Homo sapiens: one gene and its partners. The protein of the gene in region 2 purifies or fractionates together with the protein of the main gene of each other region. This does not show direct contact. Each region holds a gene or a part of one and is shown on either strand. Other genes may lie near its edges.

What was found.
Region 1: the proteins of ERGIC1 (region 2) and GOLGB1 fractionate together in Homo sapiens (co-fractionation; one large-scale study listed by BioGRID). This does not show direct contact.
Region 3: the proteins of ERGIC1 (region 2) and ITGA2 fractionate together in Homo sapiens (co-fractionation; one large-scale study listed by BioGRID). This does not show direct contact.

What each region holds. Positions count from the first base shown.
Region 1 is NC_000003.12:121,666,242-121,669,741, forward strand, and holds part of GOLGB1 (golgin subfamily B member 1), read right to left. Parts: intron 3,115-3,500; coding exon 2,971-3,114; coding exon of another isoform or gene 2,956-2,970; intron 1,918-2,955; coding exon 1,820-1,917; intron 1,370-1,819; coding exon 1,235-1,369; intron 1-1,234. UniProt on the Homo sapiens protein: May participate in forming intercisternal cross-bridges of the Golgi complex.
Region 2 is NC_000005.10:172,920,342-172,925,819, forward strand, and holds part of ERGIC1 (endoplasmic reticulum-Golgi intermediate compartment protein 1), read left to right. Parts: exon of another isoform or gene 1-22; coding exon of another isoform or gene 23-143; exon of another isoform or gene 144-1,185; coding exon of another isoform or gene 1,186-1,284; exon of another isoform or gene 1,285-1,746; coding exon of another isoform or gene 1,747-1,762; exon of another isoform or gene 1,763-1,961; intron 1,962-3,663; coding exon 3,664-3,768; intron 3,769-5,478. UniProt on the Homo sapiens protein: Possible role in transport between endoplasmic reticulum and Golgi.
Region 3 is NC_000005.10:53,090,352-53,092,815, reverse strand, and holds part of ITGA2 (integrin alpha-2 precursor), read right to left. Parts: intron 2,298-2,464; coding exon 2,217-2,297; 3' UTR 1-2,216. UniProt on the Homo sapiens protein: Integrin alpha-2/beta-1 is a receptor for laminin, collagen, collagen C-propeptides, fibronectin and E-cadherin. It recognizes the proline-hydroxylated sequence G-F-P-G-E-R in collagen.

The DNA of each region.
Region 1 (3,500 bases), on a different chromosome or scaffold from region 2:
AATTAGCTACCCCAACTTCCATTCTGCATCAGAGCTAAAGAGGGAATTGTGGCTTGAATTAATACGGCTTGCCCACAGGCTCAAGAGTCATCATCCCACACATGCAGTCTCAGTTGGTTTGGGACAGGTTAGTTACACAAGAGGGAGATCAACCTCCCCATTGGCCAGGTTTCACCGGTCTAAACAATTCAATAGCAAGTAGAAGAGAAACAGTCATGAGGGCACAGGCCTGAAAATGCTCGGCAGAGATGGCAAGACACCACACAAGGCATTAAGCAAAGCTGGCCCACCCTCAAAGCTGCATATCAAGGCCTGAATAGGTGATGAAAATTAAGAAGTTGTGAATATGTTGGATTGGAAAGAAAGGTATCTCAAGTAAGACCTGCTCAATGGGGCTGTCACCTCTGCCACATAAACTTTACAAGAAAGCATTAATATCAGAAATGTCATTCTCTGAGGAAAGTGATCATATACATAGGTGGCTTTCTCCCAAAATATAATAAAAGTGCCTGCTTTTAACGATATTTTCCGTGGAAAGGGACTTCCAGCAGCAAAATACTTGTAGCAACTCTCTATCCTCTCATGCATAGTGATTCTTTTGATGAGAATAAGGAACTAGGGATGTGTAGCTCTGCCCTTCCAAATTACACTTGGAGCAAACTGCTCATAGGAAGCACAGTTCACTCTGTTATTCCAATACTCTTGTTTGGCAAGAGCAGGATTTTCTGTGAAGGAGGTCTACCTTGGCCCAACATTGTCTGTGACTGGGAGGGGAAGTTCAGGGTTAGGAAGTGCATTTGCCAACAAATAAAAAGCTACATTCTTTTAACATCATTTATAAAGCAGTCTTTTAATCTCTCAATCTTTTAATCTTTTAAAAAAGATTTCCATGGATTCAGATCTCAGGTAGAAAATGAGGTTGTCACTTATTTGGTCCTCTAGAGAACCCAACACCTACCTCATATAGTTATGGTTAGGGTGAAATAAAATATCTTTCAGTAATGGTAGATATCATTATTATTCTCTAAGAACAACTGTTTTAGAAAACACTGACTCTCTTATACTCCAAAAGTACAGTGTTCTCTTGGGTGACCACAATGTTGGTAAACTCATTGCAGCAACTACCTCAAGATGAGAAAAAGATCTTAAGAAATCCTAAGTCTGGCAGGAAATGTACATGAGTTTGATCAGAAAGGATCGGAAGGGAACAGAGGCTATCTCCTTCAGCCTTTACCGTCTGATCTGCTCCTCGGCCACAGAGAGAGCATTCTCAGCAGCCACTCTTTGGTCTCGTTCTTCTTCCAGCAGCTTCCTTAATTCATTCACTTCCTGTCTGGTGTTGCATAGCTGCTGCTGAGCTTCAGAAAAGCTTTAGGATGAGAGGAAAACAAAAAGCATCATCAGATGCAGAAAACAGTTGCTAATACAAGGGATTCAAAGTCTTCATAAGGTTGTAAAGCAAGAAAATCCATAGAAGCTTGTCTAAACACAATATTTTAAAAGCAAAGCTGTAGAGGGATTAAATGAAGCTGCAGAAAATACCTAAAGAAATTTCAGGAACTGATTATCTTTCATTTTACTATCATAGAGTAGTTGTTAGTGGTGTGTGTGTGTTGGTGTTGCTCTTTTTGTTTTACAAACTTTTCACACACAAATGTTAGTTATTATTGTTACTATTTGATCCTCACATCACTTCTGTGAGGCTAATAAGATAACAAGACATATTAAATCCATATAAAGGACTCCAGTTAAATCTAGATTACTGCCCAATTTCTGGACTCTGGTGTATGCTCCAGGGTTTAGAGAGCCACTCCCCTACCTTTGCTGCGGTTCCCTTAGTTCCTCAGGGTCACTCTTTCTGTGAACTCCATTCTTTTCCTGGGGAGCTCCTGGAGCAACATCTATATTTAGTGGCCCCTGGAAGAAGAATAAGCTTAGTAATTCAGTGATGAAAGCTCTTAAGAAAGTGTATTTGAGCAAAATGAGAGCTCGTTTACAGAGGACTATCCCCGCTTATAATTCTCAAGTCCAAATTTAGAAGTGAGAAGCTTCTGCTCTAGCAGATTACTCACCTACATAAAACTCTTGTCTTGATTAGATTTTTCTCCCAGATTCTCATTCTTGAATTTCTCCTCTTAAAAGTTAAGTCTGGGCCGGGCGCCGTGGCTCAAGCCTGTAATCCCAGCACTTTGGGAGGCCGAGGTGGGTGGATCACAAGATCAGGAGTTCAAGACCAGCCTGGCCAAGATGGTGAAACCCTGTCTCCACTAAAAATACAAAAAATTAGCCGGGTGTGGTGGCAGGCGCCTGTAATCCCAGCAACTCGGGAGGCTGAGGCAGAGAATTGCTTGAACCCAGGAGGTGGAGGTTGCAGTGAGCCGAGATCGTGCTACTGCATTCCAGCCTGGGCGACAGAGCGAGACTCCGTCTCAAAAAAAAAAAAAAAAAAAAAAAAGTTAAGTCTGCTGTGGATGCTTATGGCTTTTCCAGAAGCCACTTTGATCCTTCCCTTGCTTGTCCAGCCCCTCCCAACCCCCTTTTCCTCCTCCGTATCCTATACGTCTCCATACTAATTCTCAGTCTCCTCCAACTTCAATGCTGTACTCCTCTCCCTGGCTGTCAACAGTGCTGCCTGTTTTGTTCTCAGATCCAAAGTTTCCTACAATTTTCTTATAACTTAAAGCAAAATCAACACTTTCTCTGTTTCAGAGTACCAAATGTCTCAGTCATCACTGTTTCCTACTCATGTTTTGATTTCTCTCCCACCATCTCACTGATCTTTTTTCTTCTAATTGCTTCACTGTAATTTTTCTCAGACCTTATTCCCATCTCAATTAACTCTTTCTTCTCTCCCACTTTCTTCCCTGACCCCTAATTACATTAACTTCTTCCATACTGCTCTGTAGTGCTTCACCACTTGCACTAAATTTCATCACACTTCTCCCAGTCTCTCACCTTCTCTTTACTCACCGCCTGCAGCTCTTGAACCTGCTTCTCCAAGACTGCACAGTGATTTAAAAGGTCACCATAGTGCTGCTGGTTCTCACGAAGACTCTGACTGGTATCGCAGAGCTGAATGGAAAGGGTGTTTTTCTCTTCCAGTAGCTGAGAGAACTGAAACAGAGGCGAGGATAAGCATCATCCTGCAGTACTGTAAGCAGTGCTGAGGTGAAATGTTCTGAGTTTTCAGGATCTAATTTTCCTATGGAAGACCTTTGTTTCAGCAACAGCAACAATAGCACTTTGTGTGCCTTCAAAGTTGGAAAAAGCATAATTTTTTTTTGACCAAGACAGAAAACAATTCTGGAGGAGTAGCAGAAAGGTTTTTTTGTTTTGTTCTGTTTTGTTTTTTTAAATGGTGCCCAGTACATTAACTGAAAAACCATGAAGCAGAAGTCCATAAGCAATCTAATTACATAGGCTATTCTGGGTACATAAGAGGGAGAAGGCAGTACCTCAGGGTCAAAGTTCATGGTACTAACAAATGACTATAATCTCCA
Region 2 (5,478 bases):
GGCCTCCTTATCCGACCCCCAGGAAGTTGACCAGCAGCCAGATGTCAGAGTTTGCGTGTTTTGAGCAGCAGCGGCAGCCTCACCAGAGACCCCACGGTGACCTCGTTTCATCAGCCAGCCCCGCAGGAGGAGGACAGGATGGGGTGAGGGGTATGGGGCCTGGCTCCAGCTATATGTTTTTAAAATCCATCAGAGACACTGACGTAGGTTCCTAAGTCACAGGCTCTAAAAGCGTTGCTGTTTCTTTCTTCAGCCCAGCATGTGCTGGCATGAGTCAGCCACCTGTGATGGATTTGGTGTGGAGGGGGAGTGGGTTCCTGAGTCACAGCCTCGCACGGCCCGGCAGGGGTGGCAGGTGCTGAGGGGACAGCCTTCTTGACTCACTTCACTCCCGGAGCACGCGGCCCAGGCCCCAATCCCAGTTCTGAACTCTGCCATGGCCCGATCTGCGGAAGGCCCTGTGTCACTGCGTAGAAAACCTCTGGGAGGACACACGCCTTATGGCTGTGGGTTTCTTACTCCCAGGGGTGGTCAGCAACAGGGTCTTTAGTCTGACTGTGTCTCATGACTGTTTTATCATGAAAATGTACCCAGGCATTATTTTTATCGGTGAAAATGAGGCATAAATGTTAAAACCCACAGTGGGCTTTTCCTCACGCCCTGCCTGTGAGTGTTCCCTCTTCCGGGAGGGCCCTTCTTGGTTGGCTCCGATGACAAACATGTTCACCCTACAAACCCGATCTGAGGCCAGCTGCGGGCTGCTTTGTATGCATCACCTCAATGAATCCTCCCAGTAATCTTCTGGCTTTACGCCCATTTCGCTGATGGAGAAACTGAGGCATGGAGTGGTTACTGACCTCGCCTAAGGCTCCCCAGCTAGGAAGTGGGGCTGGGCTTGGGGCCAAGTGTAGAACTCAGAGCAACCGCTCTACTATGGGTTATTGGGTCCCTGAAGCAGGCGATGCTGTCCCTCGAGGGAGATCTTGCCACGCCTTTGTTTCTGCTCCACTCCTGACCCAGCAAGTGTCCCTTCTCCACTGTAGCCTGCAGCTCGCTCCACTGCGAGTTTGCTGAGGCCGAGGCTACAGGCTGTCAGCTTGATGCCTCCCCTGTCAGCCACAAGCTCGGGCCCTGCTGAAGTAGGAATATTCCTGCAGGAAGTCCCCAACTTTGTGTTTGAAACAGACATGCTTACAAAATCAGACTTTGATGGGCTGCTGCACGATAAGCTATATTCCCTCCTCGGACACAGCTCGCACAGTCTTCTTCATTGGGCTGGAATAAGGTAACCCCCGAGTTTTTCAGTGTGGCATCTGGGGACCTTTGATAAACAGCCCCAACTCCTCCCTTGTGCCTCTTTGTTTCCTGCTGCTGCCAGCACCGCCACCTCCGTCTCATTTGGAGTTCAATAATACCAGACTCTTAGTTCCTTAGACAGCCCACATGCTGGGAAGTTTCTGTCCTCTGCACCTGTTCATGCTGTTCCCTCTGCCCAGATGCCTTTCGCTCTCTTCCTGAGTAATGCAGACTCATCTTCAGAGCCTTAACACAGGATGTCCTTCCCCCTGGGAAGCCCTCCCTGAATACAGCCTGCACCCTCAATTGAGCCGGGGGCCTTCCCTGTAACCCCCATGGTCTGCAAATTCCTCTGGGCCAGGGTGGATCCCACAGAGTCTCATTGTCTGTTCCAAGTCTGTGTCACAGGGGCTTGGCCAAGGCCAGATTCTTGTCTGCTCATCTCCCCAGTTCCGGCATCTCCTGAAGGACTGGCGCCATGTGGCCATCAGCCCAGGCTGCGGAGGTAGATGGCATCCAGGCATCAGAGGAGGGAGCAGTGCGTCCAACAGACGTGAGCTGAGACTGCAGCTCTCGACATGTGACCTTAGCAAGTTTCTTCACTGCTCTGAGCCTCCATTTTCTTTTCTGTAAAATGGGAATTATCAGATGACAAAGTCAAAGGATTCAGTGTTGTTTGTTTAGTCATTCATTCATTCAAAAAGTGTCTATTGAGCACCTGCTATGTGTCGGAGTCTGGGGAGCACAGCAGGGCGTGGACATGCTAATGGGAGGAGGCAGACGAGAACAGGATGGGTATGAGATGGCAGGTGATCCCAGAGGCTGTAGCAGGTAAGGGGATGGGGAATGGGGGCCAGGGTGCTCTTTTGCACAGGTGGACGTGGAGGGCCTCTCTGTTGGGCCCTGAGGGTCCGAGGGAGGGCCATGTGGAAGAGGGTCCCAGGAAGGGGTGCAGGCACAAAGGCCTAAAATGGGGCCACACTGGATGCTGTTCCCGGCACGGCAGGAGACCAGACAGGAAGCAGCAGAGGACACAGCAGCAGGAGGCCAAGCGGTGGGGACACGATGCTTGGCCAGCGGCCAGATGTGGCCTGTGGGCCACCACGAGGACATGGACCTGGACTCTGAGAGAATAGAAGCCGTGGAGGGTTCTGGGCAGAGGAGTGATGAGATCTGATGTAGGGTTTAAAAAGATCTTAACAGTCATTATTGGGAAAAGGCCCAGGCTGTGGGGAACATGGAAGCTGGGAGCCCAGGGAGGAGCCTGCCATTGTTGTCCATGAAGAGACGACCTTGGACCAGGGCAGCAGAGAAGAGGTCAGGCGCCAGGTGTGTTTGGAAGGTGGAGCTAACAGGGTTTCAGCTGATGGATGGGACGTCGGGAGTGAGAAAGGGGGGTTCCAGGATCATACCAAGGGTTCTAGTCTGAGCATCTAGGAGGAGGAGGAGGAGGAGGGTTCCAGGATCATACCAAGGGTTCTAGTCTGAGCATCTGGGAGGAGGAGGAGGAGGAGGGTTCCAGGATCATACCAAGGGTTCTAGTCTGAGCATCTGGGAGGAGGAGGAGGAGGAGGGTTCCAGGATCATACCAAGGGTTCTAGTCTGAGCATCTGGGAGGAGGGAGGAGGGTTCCAGGATCATACCAAGGGTTCTAGTCTGAGCATCTGGGAGGAGGAGGAGGGTTCCAGGATCATACTAAGGGTTCTAGTCTAAGCATCTGGGAGGAGGAGGGGGAGGAGGGGGAGGAGGAGGGACTTCGTGCTGAAACAAGGAGAAGCTGCAGTGGCTCCTGCCACATGGTTGTCACCAGCATCCTTTGTTCTGTAAATACTCATCCAGCACCTCTTGCTGGCTTGGCTCTGCGAGGGCTTGAGACCCAGGGAAGAGATGAGGCTACCACAGTCTGTCCATCAGGGATCCCCCGTCTAGGGCACTGGGGCAAACTTGGGTAGGAAATGATAGGGGTTTGGAGTCTGAGGAATCCCCATTAGTCTGCAAGCTCAAAGGTCATCCCCCAGCTGACTGTGGGGTCAGCCGCCCAGAATCCACAGAGCTGGAGGGGGAGCAGCTGCCATGAGTCCTGGCTTTGTGCCCGTCGCCCAGATGGGCACTTCACATGCACCCTCTCACCAGATAGTCCTGGCAGCCCCCTCGGAAGCTATGGTAGTGCCCCCATTCTGCAGATGAGGAGCCTGAGGCCCAGAGAGATGGGGTGACTCCTTTGCACAGTTGAAAATGATACAAGCAGGATCCAAACCCAGATCTGCCTGATTCCAGTGTCCTCCCTGGATCACACAGGGTGAGGCCCCAATGTTCCGCCCCCTGGAGAAGTCAACCAAACTCCTGAAACTCACATTTCTCCCCCAGGTCCCCGGCAACTTCCACGTGTCCACACACAGTGCCACAGCCCAGCCACAGAACCCAGACATGACGCATGTCATCCACAAGCTCTCCTTTGGGGACACGCTACAGGTGAGCAGGGGACACTCGAGATGGCATGGCCGGGGGTGGGCCTTCAGGGGCTCTGTCACCCAGTGCCCTCTGCCCTCTCTGGGCACTAGGAAGAGTTACCGTTAAGGTGACATCTAAGCCAAGCCTGGAAGGGTAAGAAGGGTTTCACCAGGAACAGAACAGGGAAATGGGTCCTAGGCAGGGGGCGTCTCAAACATCACCCCTCTCCTAGAGCGCCCAGCTGGTGGTTTTCATGTGAAAGACCCTCAAGGTTACTTTCAGAAAAATGGATCAGTAAGCGTATGTGACACGGCATGTTCTGTGCCGAGATGGTCCAGGGCACAAGGGCTCGCTTGGCAGCTGAGAGGGCCCAGAGCACTTGCCTGAAATGGGAGCCGGCAGGTGGGGTGTGTGGGGTGCGAGAGACCCGTGGTAGACTGAGGAAGGTGGAGACTGAAGGTCTGGTTGGTGACTCAGAGCACCCATCTGCAATGAGGAAGATGGACCCAGGAGGCAAGACTATAGGCAGGGAGGTGAGGGAAGGGCCCAGACCGAGGCAGGTGGAGGGGAGAGGAGCAGCGGTCTCGCATTGCCACGTGCAGGGGCAAAACAGAAGGACACAGAAACTACAGTCCCAAGTTTAGTCATTAGTGGGGTGGAAATCTGATTTTTTTAAAAAAATGTACAGAACTTAGCTTAGGGCCCATCCATCCATTCATTTTCTGTCCATCCATCTAGTCAACAAATATTTACAAAGTACCTACCGTGTCCAGGCCTTGCATACCTTGGTGAGGACAAACATGGTCCCTGCCCACCTGGAGCTTCCAGTCTAGGGGGGAAGACAGATGTTGATCAAATAATGGTACAGGCCAGGTGCGGTGGCTCACTCCTGTAATCCCAGCACTTTGGGAGGCTGAAGCGGGCGAACTGCTTGAGGTCAGAAGTTTGAGACCAGCCTTGCCAACATGGTGAAACTCTGTCTCTACTAAAAATACAAAAATTAGCCGGGCGTGGTGGCAGGCACCTGTGATCCCAGCTACTCAGGAGGCTGAGGCAGGAGAATCACTTGAACCTGGGAGGTGGAGATTGCAGTGAGCTGGTATCATGCCACTGCACTCCAGCCTGGGAGAAAGAGTAAGACTCCTCCCAAAAAAAGAAAAAATAAAAATAAAAATAAATGGTACAAATAAATGTGAGATAAAGCCATGTCACATGACAATGGAAGAGAACATTCTAGCCTTCTTGTCTCTGTAACCACCGTTCTCATGGGTTAGAAATGAAGCCTTCACACGGTCAGTCTCAAGACAGCAAATAGACAAACTTCCTTTTCCTTGTTGAGAAATTGCAGTTCCTTCCAGTTGTTGAGGAATTGCTTGTTGAGAACATGCAGGTGTGTTAAGTGCTCAGTAAACATCAGCCGCCTGAGACCAGGATCAGGGATTATGCCACCCCGCTGCTGCCCACTGCTCCTGGAGTGGCCACAGAATCATGTCCCCACGTACCTCTCCGATGTCTCCTCCTTCCTTCTATTCAAACACCTCACTCTCCTTCCTCCTGGGGGCCACGTGGGCCTGTCTCCATACTTAAGCCTTTGTACATGCTGCTTGCCAGTTTAACTTCCCACTTTCCTCCAGATCTTGGTGTCAATGTCATTTCCTCCAGGAAGGCCTCCAGGGTGTCTAGCTCGATAACCCCTGTTAACCATGCCCATGGTAGCATGCTCCATTTACC
Region 3 (2,464 bases), about 120 Mb from region 2:
TAAATAGTCATTTTTTTGAGACAGGGTCTTGCTATGTTGCTTAGGCTGGACTTGAACTCCTGGGCTCAAGCGATCTTCCTGTCTCAGTCTCTCAAGTAGCTGGAGCTTCAGGTACACACCAGCACCACTAGCTGTTAAATATTCTTTATCAAGCTAATGACTAGTTTCTCCAGTCTTTTTTTTTTTTTTTTAAATAAAATTTTGTTGGAATGAAGCAGCAAATTCTCACAGCTGTTAAAAGAATTGGACTCTGGCATACCTAACTGGAGAATACCATGCTGTTTTTTCTATAAACCGCTGGCATTTTATGCCTTTTTTGTTTGTTTTGTGTTGTCAACTACAAAGTAATTCTGTAAACAGTACAGATAGCCCTGGACTGCCACCACGGGCCAGGCCAGGGTAGTCAAGGTTGTCCATATGCACATGGGCAGATAACCTGTTTTCCTTTGACATTTTTTTCCAAGTCAAATTCTTGGAGGATTGTGTATTTGTATTATAGGAAGTCCAGATCATAGACTTTTAAAACTAAAAGCATCACTGCTGAACTCCAGCTCAGTCTTCCCATTTTATAATGAGGACTCTGAAGTTTATAGAGGTCAAGGACTTGTCCAAAGCTTTAGATATGTAGTGTCTGTGCCCTTTTCCTCTAAGTTTCTCCTAGAGAATGTGGGGGCTCAGGAACAGAGAAAATAAGGTGCAAAAAGTAGAAATGGGTGGTGTTTCTCAAAGTGTGGTCCATCTGCATCCTAGTGACTGGGGTGCTTGTTAAAATGCAGATTGCTGGGCCTTATCCCAATCTGACCAAATCATCTCAGGATCTACCTTTTGAACAAACTTGCCTAGGTCAAATTCACTCTTGTGGAAGTTTAAGTACTTCAGAAACAAGACAGCCACAGAAGGTGCACCTGCTAATTTGGTGGCTTCCAGTGCCTCATCTGTAACTTCTGGTGAAATCCTGAGATGTCTTACTTTACATTGTTTACATCCCATAACATTCCAACATTTAGAAATTCACTCGAGCTTATTTTTCTTACTTGTTTAGCACTAAATGAAAATAGCTCCCTGAAGTTAAGGAGTTTATATACAGTAATTCATGCAAGTGTGTAAATTAAACAGATGACTTTCCCCCCTAATATCTAATGCACAGCAGCTGTCCTGAAGGAGTGGGAACTTTGGATGAGGGGTAAAGGAGGGGATAACTTTGGACCGCTGGAGAGAAAGTCAGGCTGTAGAGGGCTTCTATAATAATGGTACCACCAGGAGGTGGGAGAGTGGTTCAGTAAGGGAGGAGGAAGGTTGCCAAAGAAATTACTCATCTTTCAGAAATTCACTAGGTTACTGCCAGTCAGCCAAACAAATCCTAGAAGAGAACTGTTGTGCCTCCTAAAAGAGAAAGGAAATTTCCTCCTTTTCCTTCCTCTGGCACAGGATGGGCTTCTAGCAGATGGGATTTTACATGTTATATTCTGAGTTTTAAACAAAATTTTGTGCCTTATTCTCTATATCGCCCCCTCTCCTAACTTAAATGGACATATAGGAGGTATACTCTAAGCTCAGTTATTCAAGCATGTTTTGATCATTAGAGCAAGATGGGGTGTGGAAGGGGCAGCCGTGGTCTAAAAGGAACCAACAACAAATTTTACCTAGTTTATAAATAAAATTATCACTTGGAAGTATCATCTGTGGCAACTTTGGATGAGCAGCATAAATTGAAAAAACCTGTGTTTTGTTTTCCCCTCTTGTTAACATCAATATTCATTAAAATATACACAAGTGGAAGTACTTACATATCAAGCACTTCCACTTCTGTAGTTGCTGTTTAAAGACAAATATTTTAAAGAGAACAGTTTTCCCCCTTAAAATCTGAGAGTATCATATTTTTCTTTAAAAGTTGTCATGCTTGGAAGCATTTCATGTTTCTGACACAATGCAAATTAGAATGTAAACTCTGGGCCAGCCAGTTTAAAGATTACTTTTTTTCCCCCATCATATAAAATAGGTATTTTCCCTATTATTTCCCTACCTGCCCCCCGCACCTCCCCCACCCCCCACAATTTCTTCATTCCAAACTGACCTGCAGTTTTCTCTTAAAATACCAGGTTAGTTTACCTACGACATGATAAAAAAAATATGGGATTTAAAAAGAAATCCATTCACGCAAACAGCAAACCCTGGCTGGGATGCTGCCGGTTCCCACTGCAGGTAGGTCTGCTGGTTCAGCTACTGAGCTCTGTGGTCTCATCAATCTCATCTGGATTTTTGGTCATCTTTTCATATTTTCTTTTGAAGAAGCCGAGCTGTAAAGGTGATGATATAAGAATGTTACCACCCGTGGCTTATTTTGTAAGGTGCCTCTGACCCCCTTGGCTGCCCACGTCCTCTGATGCACCTCTGGGAATCCCTGAGGCTCTGAAGGGAGGTGTGCAGACTGATGACCTGATATCTACCACCTGCTAGAAGGAAA